Regions from separate parts of the Homo sapiens genome. Here region 1 is linked to region 2. Evidence: fine-mapped expression QTL. A gene starts in region 2. The other region holds a variant in brackets. All regions are shown on one strand. Distances are between the middles of the regions. Region 1 overlaps LOC107986930 (a long non-coding RNA gene). Region 2 holds the start of STC1 (stanniocalcin 1).

Evidence for each region. PIP is the estimated chance that this variant, and not a neighbour inherited with it, causes the effect.
Region 1: its variant is the best candidate, but not a certain one, in a credible set for the expression of STC1 in breast (GTEx, PIP 0.54).

The regions. Positions count from the first base shown.
Region 1 is chr8:23,797,054-23,805,390 of GRCh38, forward strand. LOC107986930 (a long non-coding RNA gene) reads left to right here. Exons shown (of 5, transcript XR_001745842.2): 5 at 1-5,889. Among named protein-coding and RNA genes, the nearest start is that of STC1, 54 kb to the right of the region's middle. RefSeq lists an enhancer at 1,059-2,258. The variant G/A (reference allele first, on the strand shown) is at 4,945.
Region 2 is chr8:23,850,430-23,858,766 of GRCh38, forward strand. STC1 (stanniocalcin 1) reads right to left here and starts at 4,377. Exons shown (of 4, transcript NM_003155.3): 1 at 3,977-4,377; 2 at 1,813-1,955; 3 at 891-1,102. The coding sequence starts at 4,094.

The DNA of each region.
Region 1 (8,337 bases), 53 kb before region 2:
ACCCATCCTATACTGACTCACACACTGACTCTTGTTGTGACTCAGTGAGTTCAGGCTGGTAAGTCTTGGTCTTCTGGGATGTGAGCTACTTCCTCCCAAGCAGGTGGCCAGGGACACATCTTTCCCGTGCATCCTCCTTGGTGTTGGGCACAGTGCCCATAAGAGGGTGGAATGCCCTGGGGTTCCGTGCACTCAGGGCCTGCAGACTGCACTACAGGAGCAGCGTCACAGTTGTATAGAGGCTTTTGTGGGTAGATGGGGGAAAAGGGAGATAGCTAGGGATGTGAGCCACATGCTTTCAGCATGTCTAAAGACATATGCCATCAGTGCCTGGAGGAGAGCCCCAGTCAGCCTATGTTCCCTTTTCTGGCAACTGCAGGTCATGGCCTTCTCTCGTCCACTCCCTACAGCCTCATGACGACTCTCTTCCTCTTCAAGAATGGCGTGGATGTCTATTGTAATTTGGTTTTCTATCAGCTAAAAGATGGTGAGGGTGTGGTTCTCCCTACTGTCATCTGCCATTTAGCACATGGTTAAGTACCTTGGTTTGGAGTCAGTCTAAATCTGCCCTGTCCAATGGGGTAGCCACTAGCAACAAGTACAACTTAAATTTAAGTTAAATAAGATTGAATAAAAATTTAAAATCTAGTTTTCCAGTTGCAGCGATCACATCTCAAGGCTCATTAACCACATAGGGCTAGTAGCTACCCTATTTATTGCACAGGGCAGATATAGAACATTGCAATCATTGCAGAAAGTTCAATTGAACACTGCTGGTCTAGGCTGGGCTCAAACCCTTGCCCTTCCACTCATTTTCTGCACGATCTTCAATCAATTACTTAGTATTTTGGTGTCTCAGTTCCCTAGTTTATAAAATAGAGAAAATAATACTATCTACTTGGCAAAATTGTTGAGATTTAAATAGGATAATCCATGCAAAGGGAGTGTCAGAACATAAGAACTCAAGGTAAGTTACAACAGCAGCAACAACAGAAGCTTATGTGTTGGCCCTGTTGGATCTGAATTCCAACTTCCCACCACAAAGAATAGCTTTGACACCAAATACAAGGTGGCCTCTCAATAAATACTTAAATGTATGAGCTGAATTGAAAGGGAGTTACATGGTTGCTAGACCCAGTAGGCTCTGTTGGGTCAAGACTGAGGTTTTCTCTGTGTACGTGCAGTTCCTTGGATCTGCCTGTGAACCAGAGGACATTGTGATGCTTTCACCTTTTCGGAAAGGACAGTAATTTCCCTGATTGTGGGCTTTCAGCCAGAGGTGAGCATGTATTGACCCTCTCCAGTTCTCTCCCTCTCTCTTTTTAAAAATTTTTTATTTTTTTCCCACACTGAAAGCATATTCCCTCCTGAGAGGAAGTTTGTTTTCCATGTCCTGGAAATGTCAGGCTCCCCAGAGGGCTCGAGGGTGGATCTGTCTCAGTCAAATGTCTGTTCCTCTGATGCAGTGGGTGACCCCCCCTGCTTTCTTGAATGACATCAGCTGAGCCGTAATCAAAGTGCTCATGCCTGACTCACCACGCACTGTGGAGAATTGACTTCCAGCATAGCGGGGTGGGGGCGAGGTGGAGGAAATGGCCCTTGGCATGTGAATGACTTCTTGACTTTTGACTCAGACAGTTTCAATTGTGGTCAGGCCTCAGCATTCCCGTGCATCTCTTCATTGCCTGAGTCTTCTTGACTTAATTCTTTGCCAGTTTATAGTAAACCTGAACATGGGAAGCCCATCCTGGGCTTCACAGATCACTGCAGAAGGACTCGGGAGGACCAGGTTGCAGCAAGGGGGAGCTGGGAAATTAGAATACTTTGCCGACTGTGCCAGATGCTGGCTTCTAAATTGTAAATTCCTAACAATATACAGGAGCTGAAGCACACGAGTCCATGCATTTTGGCATTTGGTGATGACTTACTGGGGGAGAGAAGGCATAGTTTGTGGTTTCAGGAGCCAGTGTAGCATTAGGAGCTCACCTTGAATTGCTTTCAGAAGCAGAGAGATGTCAGCTGTTTCCCAGCCTCTCAGCCATCTCATCTCCCTTGTAATTATAACTCATTGTTCCACTGACTTCCTTTCTCATTGGACAGTGTCTCAAGGGTGGACCTGTCTCAGGGCAGGGCTTTCAGAAGCAGTCCTAGACGGTGCTCAAACATGTGTGCTGGGATTTTCCCAAAGCTCCTTAAAGTCTGACGGCTGAGTTGTCTAAGAGCCAAACCAAGCCTAGCAAAAGTGAAAATTCATTTAACATCAGGGCTCTCTCTCTACTGAAACAATTGATAGTTCATCACCTCATCCATCATCTGAAACTCAGCACTCAAAACCTCTTTTTCCTCCTGCTTTCTAGTGCATGGAAGATAGAATTTTTCACTCTAGGGTATACTTTTTTCTAGATATTGACTTATTTGGGTCACTTGTTATTTTTCTGTAATTTTAAAATTCCAGCAAATTTTCAACGATAGTCCAGAGAACTTTTATGTACCCTTCTTTATCAGATTCATCACCTGTTGACAATTTCCCCCATTTGCTGTCTTTTCCCCCAACTTAAAAATTATGGTAAAATACACATAACATAAAATTTAACATCTTAATCATTTTTAAGTATGCAGTTCAGTAGTAGTAATTATATTCATAATGTTATGCAGCCATCATCACCATCCATCACTCCATCTGATAACTCTTTTCATTTTGCAAAGCTGCAACTCTATACCTATGACGTGATAACACTGTGTTTCCACCTTGCCTCAGCCCCTGGCAACCCACCATTCTACTTTCTGTCTCTATGTTTTTGGCTACTCCAATTTTCACTTCACCATTTCTCTGTCTCACCATTTCTCTGTTTGTCTCTCGCTCTGTTATCTGTCTCTTGTTCTGTCTCTCTCTATATATACACATACATTCCCTTCGAGAGTAAATTGGAGACATTGTGCCTTTTAACTCCTAAATACTTCAATGTGTATTTTCTAAGGATACTTTCTTACATAACTATAGTGTGGTTATTAGAGACAGTTATATTTAAAAAATTATTTATATTTTTCTAGAGATGGGTTTTCCCTTTATTGCCCAAGCTAGTCTCAAACTCCTGGGCTCAAGTGATCCTCCCACTTCAGCCTCCCAAAATGCTGGGATTATAGGCATAAGCAACCTTGCTCAGCCAAGACTGATTTTTAAATGGAGGCACTAACATTGAGATTGCATAAAGCTTAAAAAAATATGTTCTTTATACCTTTCTTGAGTGTATTGCTACAAAACCAGTACAAAAACCAGCCAAGCAAACAAAACTCCCACCCGTGTATTAAGGGCATACTATATAACCAGCAAGATGTTTGGAGCTGTGTCCAAAATGAGGAAAATATAAGATGCTGATTTCTTAAATTTGAATTTTATTTTTTATTTCTGTAGAGATGGAGTCTTCCTATATTGCTCAAGCTGGTCTTGATCTCCTGGGCTCAAGTGATCCTCCCACCTTGGCTTTCCAAAATACTGGGATTACAGGCATGAGCCCTAGCTAGGAAAATAATATAAACATGTAAAAAGTTAAAAATCAAGGAACTATTTTAAAAGAGCATATTAATTAGTTAAATGCAGATTCTTTGGGAAAAATAATTTAAAATACCCTTGGAACAACCATTAGCAAAATTGTAAATTCGGTATAAAAATAATTCCTCAAACTTTATTTTTTGGCTGTATAAATTCCTTGGATAATTATAAAATTGTAGCAGGATGTTGAGATAATTGGCAGTAAAGTTTTGATAGGATTGGATTTTTCATAACTTCAATCAAATCAGGATATGGAGCAAAAAACTATTCCTTGTTTTAGTAGACAAAGCCTCCAATTCCCAAAGCAAGGGAAAGTTGTACTAAAACTCGTGTATAGTCTTTAAGTGTCCAAAGGATTGATGGAAAGCTAAATGGAAGCCTGTTCATTTTTGTAAGTCTACCCCTCTAGAGCCTGGTTCCAGGCACATACTAGATATGTAGTATGCGTTGTTTGATGAAAAACAATGGACCGTATTTGGAGCCAAAGACATGAAGCATGAATACATATCCTGGGGGACAAGAACTTTGGATTATTTATCTTCAGCCCCAGAAGAAGAGGTGCAGTGAAACTGCATATACTATTTTTTGGTTTATTTTTGCTGATACTTCTGCCTTGTTTGGTGAGAATTCAAAGAGGAAACAAGTGTCTGGAACAGGGTGCACACTCACCCTCACTATGGCCCATGTGCAGAGTGGCCTGGCCCTCACAAAGAACTCGGATGAACAGAGAGAATGTATTATTTGAAATGGAGGATGATCCCAAATACGGGTTGGCCCCAGTGCATGTTCAAAAACAAGACAATTGGCTGAAATACACTGAAGAATTACAAGATGCTGACCTAGAATGGGAAGCTTGAAATAATAATTAGGGCAACAAGGATAGAATCAAAAGATTGGTGACCCAAGGAAGAGGAGTGAAGGAACCAGGGTGAGTCTGAGTGAATAATGAAGACAGGATGTGGCATGTGGCTTTCATGTATTCACAGTGAGTCTGCATAGGTGGGCTTGAGCCATTTTGGGTAAAGGATGGAGTAGACATAGAGTAGAACTTCATAAATGTCCTCTGAAATGAAAGACAGCTGTTCAGTACCTTATTATGTAGGTCATTAAGAACCACCAAAGAACCTCTGAACTGAAGTCATCCTCTGCAAGGATTTGTAAGTATATCTCACCCCTACCCCTCAGATGTGTACAGGATTTACTACAGATGTGGTAAAACAGCTATTCCCATCCTGAATTTATAAACTCAGGAAGATAAAAGTCATAGATATGAAATGTGAAAATGGCATTCTACATTATGGATGTCGATAATTGCCCCCCCAACAGCTTCCTTATTGCTTGTTGTCATGTTACCCAAAGTAAGTCCTGTCTCCTCACTTTCTTAAGCTCTTCTT[G/A]TTTCTTTGTCCTCCACCCCTAGTTACATTTGCAACTTTGTCATCACCAATAATTACATCTCCTTAATCTCCATCTCATGCCTCCCTTTCTTTGACCAACGCCTCTACTCTTCTACCTCCCTCCCTCTAGTAGTCCAACACCAATGACCTTTCTATTCCATCAGACTTTCAATCCATTGGTCCTACCATATTTTCTCTGCCTTTCATCCCCTTGCTATCATGATTCCCTTGCTATCTTGATTCCTTCTTCACCTATCTTAAATTCCATGTTCAATTGTTATAACCCTTGCATATGTCTTTGACTCACTTTCCATTTTCTCACTTCATATATTCACTTTGACAAACTGCAACCTTGATTAAATCCAACTTTTTGCTTGGCGCCTGTATCTGTGCTTGGAGAAATGCAGTCGGAGGAAAAGATATAATTACACTGGCTAGTTGCACTTTAAAATCACGACCTTGACTCTAAAATAAACTTTTTAATGCAGAGAAACAATTTTACTCTTTGTCCCTGGCCAATGCACACTCTCATTGTTCTGGAATTGCTTCATGATTTCTCACAAACAGTCTCATTCCATACTCCCTCCCATGCAACTGATTTTTAAATTGAATTTTATCAAAGTAAAACAGGTACATAGTTTAACAAGTCAATAAATAATACTAGGTAGGTAACTAAGAAACAGTAGTTCTGTGCCAAATTTCCTTTCATTCCCAATTCCCATGGTAATATTTTTAACTCTCTTGTTTTTTCCCCCATAGACCATTATTATACTACCATTTCTTATTTTTTCAGTGATATAGTGCCTCTACACACACACTCATGTTATTCTTCTGACTGTTCTCGCATTCTTCCAGTATGTTTTTTTTTTTCAAAATTTTTGGTTAAGTCATTTCTCAATGTTTATATTATTACTATGTAATTAATATTCACAGTTGAACTTACAAAGTATGCTAGGACAACATTTTTTCTTTTTGAAAAATAACTTTTGATATTTTTCTTGGAATTAATTATTGCCACTTCTTTATTTGCAAAATTTTCTTTGCATCCGTTGTGAAATCTCTCAAACTTTCCCCTGGAATAGACCAGAAAATCTTGTCTGAGTATGTTTGCAACCTGTCAGGTATTCTATTACTTTTATTTTCTTCATGACTACCTAGTCCAGAAGCCTCCTGCATCTGTTCTAGTCAAGCTGATTTCTCTCTAAAAAGAAATCTAGAGAGACTTCTAGATGTGTCTAACTAGAGCTGCTATCCTGGGACTTCTCTTCACTCTCATCCTGTGAATGCCTTTACCTTTCTGTGTAGGAGCCTTGTTACCTGGTTTCCCTGTCCTTCTTCTTCCGGCTTAACTTTTCACTGAGGAGGAATGAATGGGTCAACAAGTAGCTTCCTGGAAAACGTAGCTGGGAAGACAATTTTGGGGGCATATTGAAACTCTGAAATGTCCTTATTTCACCCATGTACTTGACTGATAGTTTGGCTGGGTACGGAATTCTAGATTGGCATCAATATCCTCTCACATTTTGATGATATTGCTACATTGTTTTCTACCAGTTTTGCTAATAGGAGTTTTAATGACAGTGATATATCTTTTGTAAATGAACACTTTCTTTTTTCCACCATTCACATAATTTTAGGCTTTCATCTTTGCCCCTGGTATTTACAAATGCCACACGATGGACCATTATACAGAATATTTTTTCATCGATTGCACTGTTTTTTCAGTGAGCTCGTCCAATCTGGAAACTCATATTTTTCAGTTCTTTGAAGGTAGTACTGAAATTATAATAGCATTGTTACTCTTTATTTTCCCTCTTTTTCTTTTCTAGAACTCCTATTAGTTGGCTGCTATATATCCTGGATTGATCCTCTAGTTTCCTTACTTACCTCACAAACTTTCTTTCTCTCTTTTTTCTACTTCCTGGGATATTTCCTCAACATTATTTTCAAACACTTTTGTTGGATTTAAATTTTTGCTGTTGTATTTTTAATTTTCAAGAACTCTTTTTTTTGGTAACAAAATATTGTTTATAGTTTATTTTTTAAATTGATAAAAATCATATAAGTTGTGTACAACCTGTTTTAAAATATATATACATTGTGGAATGGTTACATTGAGCTAACATATGAATTACTTCATATATATACATAACTTTTTGGTGAGAACACTTGAAATCTATTCTCTTAGCAATTTTCAAGAATACAATACATTGTTATCAACTATAGTCACCATTTTGTATTAAGAACTCTTTCTGACATTCTGAATGTTTCCCTTTAGTGTCCTATCGTGTTCTTTTTCATGGACTTCTTTCATTTCTTAATTTTTGGAGGCTATCAGACCTAAACTATTGCTATTAGTCCTGGACACGGCACACAAACCAAAAATTGTTGGCCTGGCACTGTGGCTCATGCCTGTAATCCCAGCACTTTGGGAGGCTGAGGTGGGTGGATCACCTGAGGTCAGGAGTTCAAGACCAGCCTGGCCAATATGGCGAAAACCCATCTCTACTAAAAATACAATAAGTAGCCAGATGTGGTGGCTCACACCTGTAATCCCAGCTACTCAGGAGGCTGAGGCAGGAGAATGGATTTGACCTGGGAGACAGAGGTTGCAGTGAGCTGAGATCGTACCACGGCACTCCAACCTGGGCAACAGAGCATGACGCTGTCTCAAAAAAATAAAAATAAAAAATAAAAATACATAAAAATATTGTTAAACAGCACATGAGTGCCTCTGTCCTTTGATAGTTAGTGCTCAGTGCTGGGCGTGAGATATAATTTAAACATTAGTTCTCATCACTCCAGGGAAATAATTCTTCACCACTCTTGCCTTATGTCTTGTCTCAAAACTGAAAAGAATTGTTTTTAAATGCTGAGAAGGTTTGTGGGTGGTGTCACTAAAGACATGAGAGGACACTGGTTAGATGAGTGGTGAGGATGTAAGAGGTGGCAGCACTTATGTAAATGTAAAACATTTGAAATTAATTTGTTAAATCATTTTCTCAGATAGCATGAATGCAATAGATTCTTGCATAATGAAGTATAATTTTCCAGTAGCACCTGGTATCCATTTCTGGTTTCTCTTCAGGTTTTAATTGTGGTTTCAGAGTTATTCACGGATTGACATAATATTTGCTACAGTTGCTTCTAACAGCTGAAGAACATTTTCAATTTTAAACAAAAATGCTCTTCGATTTGTATATGTGTGGATCCAGATGTAACATTGTGAAATGTGATACTAATTCTTCATTGGCAAGTAGATGGACATTGAATTGGGAATAAATTTATTTTTATAAAGTACATAGTAAGATATAACTAAGTAAAAATAATTAAATAAAATTCAGCTTTACTTAAATAATTTTGATTTAAACTTTGATATTTTAAATTACTTTT
Region 2 (8,337 bases):
CTAAACTTGACCGGTCTGCACTGCCCCTGCCAGACCTCCACGCCAACCCCATTGGCATCTCTTAGTTCTTGCTGGGAACCTTTCCAGGCCACGCACATGAACTGAGGATGCCAGCTGTCTCATGTAACAGGAATTCACTCCTGGCTGGTAAAAACACTGAAAAGTACAATGCCCAGATGTTACTGTACTAGCTCAGTGGCCTTGGGTGGTGTTTGAATACTAAGATGAGAATGGGATCTGGACAGCCATAAAACACACTCATTCTAGGAAATCTTGGGCTAGAGGAATGGGATAACATAAGGCCTGGAAGGAAACCTGAAAATGGTCCAGTCCAGCCATTTTGCTTTTTACAAAGGAAATCTGAGCCCCAGGGAAGTGAGATGGCTTGCTCTGGGCTACCCAGTGAAATCTCTGACTGTGTTTGGGACTGATTTGAAATAGATGGAGACTTAAAATCTGCATTATGACATTTAACCAGAGGGCTTTTTTTTTTTTTTTTTTTTTTAATCATGGCCAATTGTGTTGTTGCACGGTCATGGTTTCAGCCAAATCTGATGTCTTAAAAGCTTGTTTCCAGAAACTTCACCATTCCCTTCAGGCTTATGGCAAAAAATGGTCAATGAAAGCACCCAGGGATGCTGCAGATGAGGCTGGCTTTCTATGAGCTGCATGAAAAGACTTTTCCTATAACAGTAGGGAAAAAAAAGCCCAAGCTGCTTAAACTGTCACAACCAATCACAAACATATTTTTTTCCTGCAAAAGCTGGGAAGACTGCAAGCTAAAATAAGAGCATGACTGTGGCAATTTAACCCTCCCTCCCAGTCTGGCTCTGCCAGCCAGCCACCTGCTCCCAGTCCCCTGATTGTGAAAAAGTAGACTCAGTTTGTACCTGTTGGAGAAGTGATTGGGCAGCTGGACGACCTCAGTGATGGCTTCAGGGTTCCGCTTGGCGATGCTGCACACATTCAGCTTGCTGTAGCACTCTTCCTGCACCTCAGCAATCATCCTTTGGAAAGTGGAGCACCTCCGAATGGCGAGGAAGACCTTGGAGGTGACCCCGTTGGCGATGCATTTTAAGCTCTCTTTGACGAATGCTTTTCCCTGCCATGGAGGAAGGACAAGAGGGAGGTCTTTAGCTTGACCTGACAAAGAGGATGGGCATATACATGGAGGAATTTAAGGGGGCTCATCTGGGCAACGTATCATGGCCATCTGCATATCCTTGCAATGAGAAGATTGCATGTCTCGGCTAAGGATTGAAAAAAAAAAAAGCCCTCTCCCCATCTCCCTGGATTCCCTTGAGAATTAAGCTCTACCGAAATGAAATTACAGAAAAAAAAGATGAACCGTGATCAACCATTCTGCAGCTTAAAAATAGTCGTAATCTGACTTCATATTCTTGAGATTGAGACTTTGAGAATTCAGATCAAAAGCTAGTATGCTAGGTCATGCAGAGAGAACTTCCTTGCTCTATGCACGTTTTTATGTCCTCTTACAGAGGAAAATCTTTTTGGCTTATTACCCCTGGCCTTATAAGACAGCCTCTACTAGCTCCTTAGAATCATGCATTAGAGTGAGTGGGGCGTGTCTTATACAGAACCTATTTCCTGGCCAGATGAGTGCCTCTGTGTGTGTGTGTGTGTGTGTGTGTGCATGCACACACTTGTGCATACACATGCTGAGATGGGAATTTAGAGTGGGGAAGCTGAGAAGCAGGGCTGGTTCCCTACAAGACTGGTTCCTAAGAACCATGGTCTAACACACTGTTAAAGACAAGCAGCCAGTGGGAGCAGGGGTCAAGGTTTTATTACCTGAGTGTCAAATTTAGCAGCGCTGTACAAGAAGGATTTACAGATGTCATACATCCCATCTGTGTCACAGGTGGAGTTTTCCAGGCATGCAAAAGCCCCGCAGCCGACCTGTAGAGCACTGTTGAGGCAACGAACCACTTCAGCTGAAAGAGACAAATCCATCCATTCTGGGTCAAACAGTGAGGAATGGCTGGGTGGGATCAAGTGGGTGCAGAGGTGAATTTCAAGGACATGAGGTCAGAAGAACTTATCCTAGGAATCTGTCATGAGGGGCAATTGATAGACCCATTTGATTGAGAAAGAGAGGATAGACAGGCTCCTTTTGTTTATGATTGCTGGAGTACATGATGGACAGGGAGGGAGTTCTCTGTTTCAGACACACGCTCCCTGTTTCACCATTACCTACAATTTTGGTGTCTGGAGAAGTGAGGCTCAAGTCTGGAAATGCACAGTGCCTTTAAGCCATTCCATAGAATCAAAGGTCATTGCTTAGCACTTGAAAGCATGGGAAGGAAGGAGACAGTGGCTAGTGGTCAGGTTTAAGAGGTAAAAGGGCCAGGGAATCCATCTAGCTTTGGAAAAATGCACTCCCGAGTAAAAAGCATGGGATTTTAGTCTAAATGGCAGAGAAGACTGTGCCAGGAGTCCACTTGGAGACCCTTCTGATTTCAGGCTTTTAACTTACCGTCATATTGGCAAAAAGAAATCTGATCCGTTCATGTTTCACCCCAACCCTCCACTAGGACAGTGCTTAGAGGTATGCATAATCTCTTTCATATTAAAAGCCTTTTAAAAAAGAAAGAAAGAAAGAAAGAAAGAAAGAAGAAACACAGGTGTGGAATAACCAGGCCAAGGCCTCCCTATGCAAGACTGGAAGAAAACCGCAAAAAACTTGCATGAGGCTTTCTACATTCTGGATAAGATCTCCCATAAAAGTAATTTTTCTCCCACAGAAGGGGGGTGTTCTGGCAGGCAGCTAGGCAAGGAATGATCTGCAGCCTTCATGCCATAGGATTCTCCTCTGAGATCAAAAGCATGGTTCAGTTAGTCTTCCCCACCCCCTCCCACCACCCGCAGCCTCTAGGATGTTACAAGTCATTTCCCTAATTATATATTTCCACGGGTTTAAATTATAACTTTGCTTTAAGCAGTTTTAATATGCATTAGGGCTGCTATTGTTTTAGGCAAGCTCGAATTGTGAATCACTGCATCTCTATAGCAACTAAGTACAAAAGGAAGTGAAGCAAAAGCCCTCCTCTCGGCAGGGACCTGTGCTCTTCCAAGGGGATCATCATCTGCAGCATTTTGACACCTGTGATCCGGTCTTTGCTGACAGTTGGAGGACAGAGGGCAGTATTGGAAGGGGAACAAGTGGAGCCAGAGAAGTCAAGAGGCAGAGGTGTCAATGCAGGCTTCCTAATGATTCTTTTCCTTCAGAAGCCAAGATAATGCACAATTAACTGCTCCAAGAGTCAAGACGAAAGTGAGACCTTACCCTTGGAGAAACAGCTGCTACGTTTCACAATTTTTTTTTTCTAGGGGCTCTCTGGCTACGGGCTGCAGGGACGACTGAATGGAGCCCTACAGAGCCAGGAGGGAGACAGGCAGCAGGGTTGGGGGTGGGATGTATAGGGTTTTCTCTGAATCCGCCCTGGATTTGTCAGACTTGAGGGCTATGGTTCTGAAAATCAGTCTGAAGAGGGAGCTTTTCTGTGTATTCTCTTAGGTAGAGAAGTCAAGAAGTGAAGAGGTAGAGTCTTAAGAGGAAAGGAAGAGGGACAGCATCAAACAAGCCAGGTCTTACCTTAGATCAGCTTCTGGAAAGTATAGAGAGCGCTTTGAAGCATGCCAACATTCAAGCCTTTCCTCCCCTCTCACCCCTCCCCCTCCAAGAGGGTACGTGCCAGATTTCAGGCAATCAGGCTAGGCTTATGCAATGAAATACCCTCAGCAGAGCGTCCAGCTTCTTCGTTTAGTTGCATGCAATTTATTAAACAAAGGAGCTCCACTGCCTAAGGCTATTGGATTACACTGGCAGTTTATTGCCATCAGGCATGAAGCACATTTATTATCAAGATCAGCCGTCACAGACACAGTTGCAAAAGGGAGAGGCAAATGAGGACAGCTCTTTGGGGGAGAAACCGCTCTTGGGTTTGCTGCTTACCTGAGTTTTGAGCCGCCACTCGGGATTTCCTGGGGCTCACAGAGTCATTCTGCTCCGCCTCATGGGTTGCAGAAGCACTGATCACCAGCACCAGAAGCACTGCTGAGTTTTGGAGCATTCTCTGAGAAGTTTCCGCTAAGTTGTTGGGTTTTTTTTTTTTCCTGCCCCCCTTTCCTCTTTCCCTCTCCTGGCTTGAGTGAAGATGTGGATCTGGATACACTGAAAGCTTAGGTGAGGATTTGATGAGGATTTTTTTTTGTTGTTGTTGCTGGTGATGCTGCTGCTGCCACCGGTGCCTCCGCTGCTGCTGCTGCTGCCGCCGCTGCTGCTGCTGCTGCCACCGCCGCTGCTGCTGCTGCTGCTGCAGTCGCTGCTTCTTGCACCTCTGGCTTTTGCAAACTGGGGGCCCAAGAGCTGCACCCAGGGATTTTATAGCCGTTCTTATCGGTCCTCAGGATCAAGGACCAATCAGGTCCCTCAACTGGTCTGGTGAGCCAATAAGAGGGCATGCAATTCAGCTGGAGCTTTTTGACTTCTTAGAAATATTTTCCAGCAAATTAAAAGTACCTGCTGCCAATGTTTTATATGTGTGTGTGACTGTGTGTGCAGAGATGTGTGAAAAAGCTATTTTCGTGGAAGTAAGAGATAACTCTGTATTGATTGAACTAAAGAAAAATCCTATAGAAATCTCTCCAAGTTGCTTTTTGAAATCTAGCCATCTTTTTTTCTAATGAGCCACTTGGGGGAAATGGATAGCAGGGGTATGGTGGGGAAATGTGATCTCTTTAGATGAGAACTTAACCTGCTTACAGCAGTTTTACTCTAATTTTAACAGCACATTCTCGGTTCTGTTTTGTAGGCTACAAATGCAATAACTCCCTATCTTCTCTGTGTGTACATGTTCACATGTCTATGATGCATTTTTGTTTGTATGTGGACATCCTGGGTTCTCACTCACACATTTGAGCCCTTGAGGGGGAATTTATGTGAGTGGAAAAGCCTTGGGGGACTGAGATATGACAGCTCAGAGCTGAAGCCTTAGTCCCCCTACTGATCAACCTATGACTCTGGCTAAGTCTTTTTACCTTGCCCCACCTCGTTTTCCCATCTGTAAAACGCCAAAGTTGGACTCTGACATTCTGTATACCTCTAAAATAATGTGATTCTTCAATAATCAAATCAACTTTGACTTCATCTTTTCAGTCACCAGCAAAATTGCATAGTCCAGGAGTGTTAGTTACCCCAGGTACACATGTGCACACCTGCACATACCACACTCAACAGGGAGACATCATGAATGCCTGAAAATTAATAATCTGTGTTCAAGCCCAGCAACTTTATAACCACTTTGAAACAATAAGCTGGCCAAAGCAAGACTAAACCTGCTGAATGGAAACCAGTTCATTTCTTGGGGAGAGGGGTAGGAAAAAAGGGGGCAGAATGGAAAGAAGGGGTAGAGAAAGACCAGAATGTGTAGGAGAGAAGAATGATAAGCTCTAGACTTAATAGGAAAATTGCACTGCAATCACAAATCATGCCTGGTATAGAAACTTATATTTTCTTATAAGTGAGTTGTAGGCAATGCTGAGGTTTGTCCCCAACATGTGAAGGAGGTTAATGAGCCAGAAGAGGACTTCTTAGGGTAGGAAGGTGGTGAAGGTATTATACAATAAAACCTTTAATAATTTTGGGGAAGTAGATGAGAAATGGCCACTGGTGATTCATACAGATTTGGGCAGGATAATCTTGCAGAGAAATGGGGCCAGTGGCTTTACTTTGCATCCTAAAACCTTCAAACAAAAGTTGAAGAAAGAGTGCCACCCCTGTTAACCACAAACTAAACCAAGTGTCAGCTCTGTGTATGTTGTGGGGTGATAGGGTGGTGGGGGGCGGGGGGGGGGGGGCGGCGGACGGTTCTGGGTGATGATAGCCTATCCCTCACAAAATAGGGTTGTTTGGTAAGTATGAAAGTTTGCTAGAAAAAGGAATAGAAGGAATAAAGGATACAGGAAATATCTAAAAGAAAGGAAGGGAATTTTCAGATTTACATTATATAACAAGAATACATTTTAATTTATATTAACAGGCAGTATTGGTATTTCTTTAGAACCTTCTGGGCTGAGTGCTAGGGGACAATGTGGGAGGATAAATGAGAAGACATAGAGAAGAAGGTAAGTTCATTATTCTTGTCCTGAAGGTACTTACAGGTGAGTTGGGAAGATGACCAGCCACAGTCATACTTCCTAAAGGTTCGGGATGTCAGGACCTCATATAGTAAGACACAGGCTCAGGCAGCACTGGCTGGAGATGGGGGGAAAGCTCTTGAGGGAAAGATCAGTGGGGAAAGATGTAAACTGCTGTTGTTGCTTTTTAAGAATTTAGGAAAAGCTATGCTATTTCATTTTTAAAAAACAAAGCTTGTATTGTGGAAAGCTTCAAGGTTATTTGTATTGCTTTAGTTAGAAGTAGTAGATGCCAGGCAAGGCAATAGAATTTCTCAGTGCTCTCTTCCAGAAAGGGAGTAAGAGGACAGATGCGTATTCCTCCCAAGGGTCTTGACTTCTGTTCTTTAGCATTCTCTACCTCCTTGGCCATTATTCATCATCTAAGGCAGTGCCATTTGTTTCTCTTGGGCTTTCCCTGAGTTGGTCTGCTTGGCTTGGTAGGGTGATGATTTACCACCAGCCATCTACTTTGTTTTTCCAACTCTCCGTTGCTCTCACCAGAACACGATGTCCTACAAGCATCAAGATGTGTTTGTGTTTTTTTTTTCTGATGTTGATTTATTATTCCTTCTTATTTTGCTCACTTACTATCTTGTGCCTGGAAGTTCATTGCTAGGTGTGCCAAGTGTTTCCCAATAACAGGTAAACTGTCCTTTGAAGAAATACAATAGTGGTCAGCCCATTGATTTGAATGTAACTAGTATGCATGCCAATGCATTTGAGAACCTTAGGGGAAGGAGCTGAAGTCTACATGAAATGCCCAGTGTAAAATTTCTGCCTAGAATGTCATGGTATGTGGATATCCAAGTGCCCTCAATCATTGTGCAACTGTCTGGAACTGTGATATAGCAAGATAAAAGGGTCTTGGGGGCCCTGGTGGTGATGTCTGGTTTCTTTGTAACTTCTCTTGGGGGTCTGAGAGAATATGGAGGAGTTTGCTTAGCGCTCTTCACAGTCTGAGTTTTATCCTGTAAGGAACAGGAAGTTATTCGGGCTCTTGAGTAGGAATTGTTAAATGATGGGTGGAAATAAGTGTTTAGGCAAGATTATTTCATCATACTTATGATGGTTTGGAGGAAGAAAAGAACAGAAGTTTTAAGACTTGTTAATAACAGAATTTTGTTGATGAGATTCTGGCCTACAATGGTTGTGGCAGGAAAGGAAGGGAGACAAATATGAGAGATGTTTTAAATGAACTGGAAATTATTAATTAACCTAAGGATTGTCTTGGGAAAAACCTTTCTCCCAGTTTAGTGGTAATGGAGATAATACACATGAGGACTTTTCCCTCCTTATATTTTAGTTATGACTTTTAGTTGACAGGACTATCTAGTGTCTCTGTTAGGCAGGTGCTTTCTGGCATACTGTTGAGCAGCAGAATTACCTAAAAAAAGGACTTGACTGCAATGTGCGCCCAAGTGCGCCCAAGTGCAGTGGGTGGGAGGGGAGGGTATACTTTGCCATTGCCCTGAGCAGGGAAAGTGCTAAGAAGTTGGTGGGAGAAGCTGCCAACACCTAAGACTGGGTGATGATGCCCTGGCTGTGCCCGTGCAAGGCTGGCATGAGTTCAGTGAGAAGATTAAGCCAAAAGTCTCTGGGGCTTTGTTGGATTTGGCTAGCTTAAAGCTAAGCAGTGAACAGCTCTTTGCCTTTTGGTGAGAGGAGCCCAAGAACAGAGCATGTTTTCTTGGTAAATGTTCGTGTGTGTGTGTGTGTGTGTGTGTGTGTGCGCACGTGTTTGGCTAACAGAATGCAAGACCCACCAAGGTTGTTTTGGCATAGTGACCAAAGTTGGACCATTTTTCTTTGGGAATTCTGAGCCTGTGTTTTTTTTGATTGGACTTTGGGCTGTTGATTCATGCCTTCCTAACCTCAAGACAAAGAAGAAGAAGAAGGAAAATGAGGAAGATGAGGGGAAAACATTTTTATTTACTCTTCTATAAAGGCACCAGATTATCTGTGTGGACAGTCCTCAATTCATGAGAAAATCTGTGCCATTTGCAAGTCTTTGATTGCTGTAAACTCTACTAAAGAAAGAAGGTGAGAAAATATATTAAGAGGGCAAACTCCCCACTTCTCTCCTTTGTTGATGGAAGGTGACTGTGTGCCTGGTTCTAGGTCAGGTGTTGTGGGAAA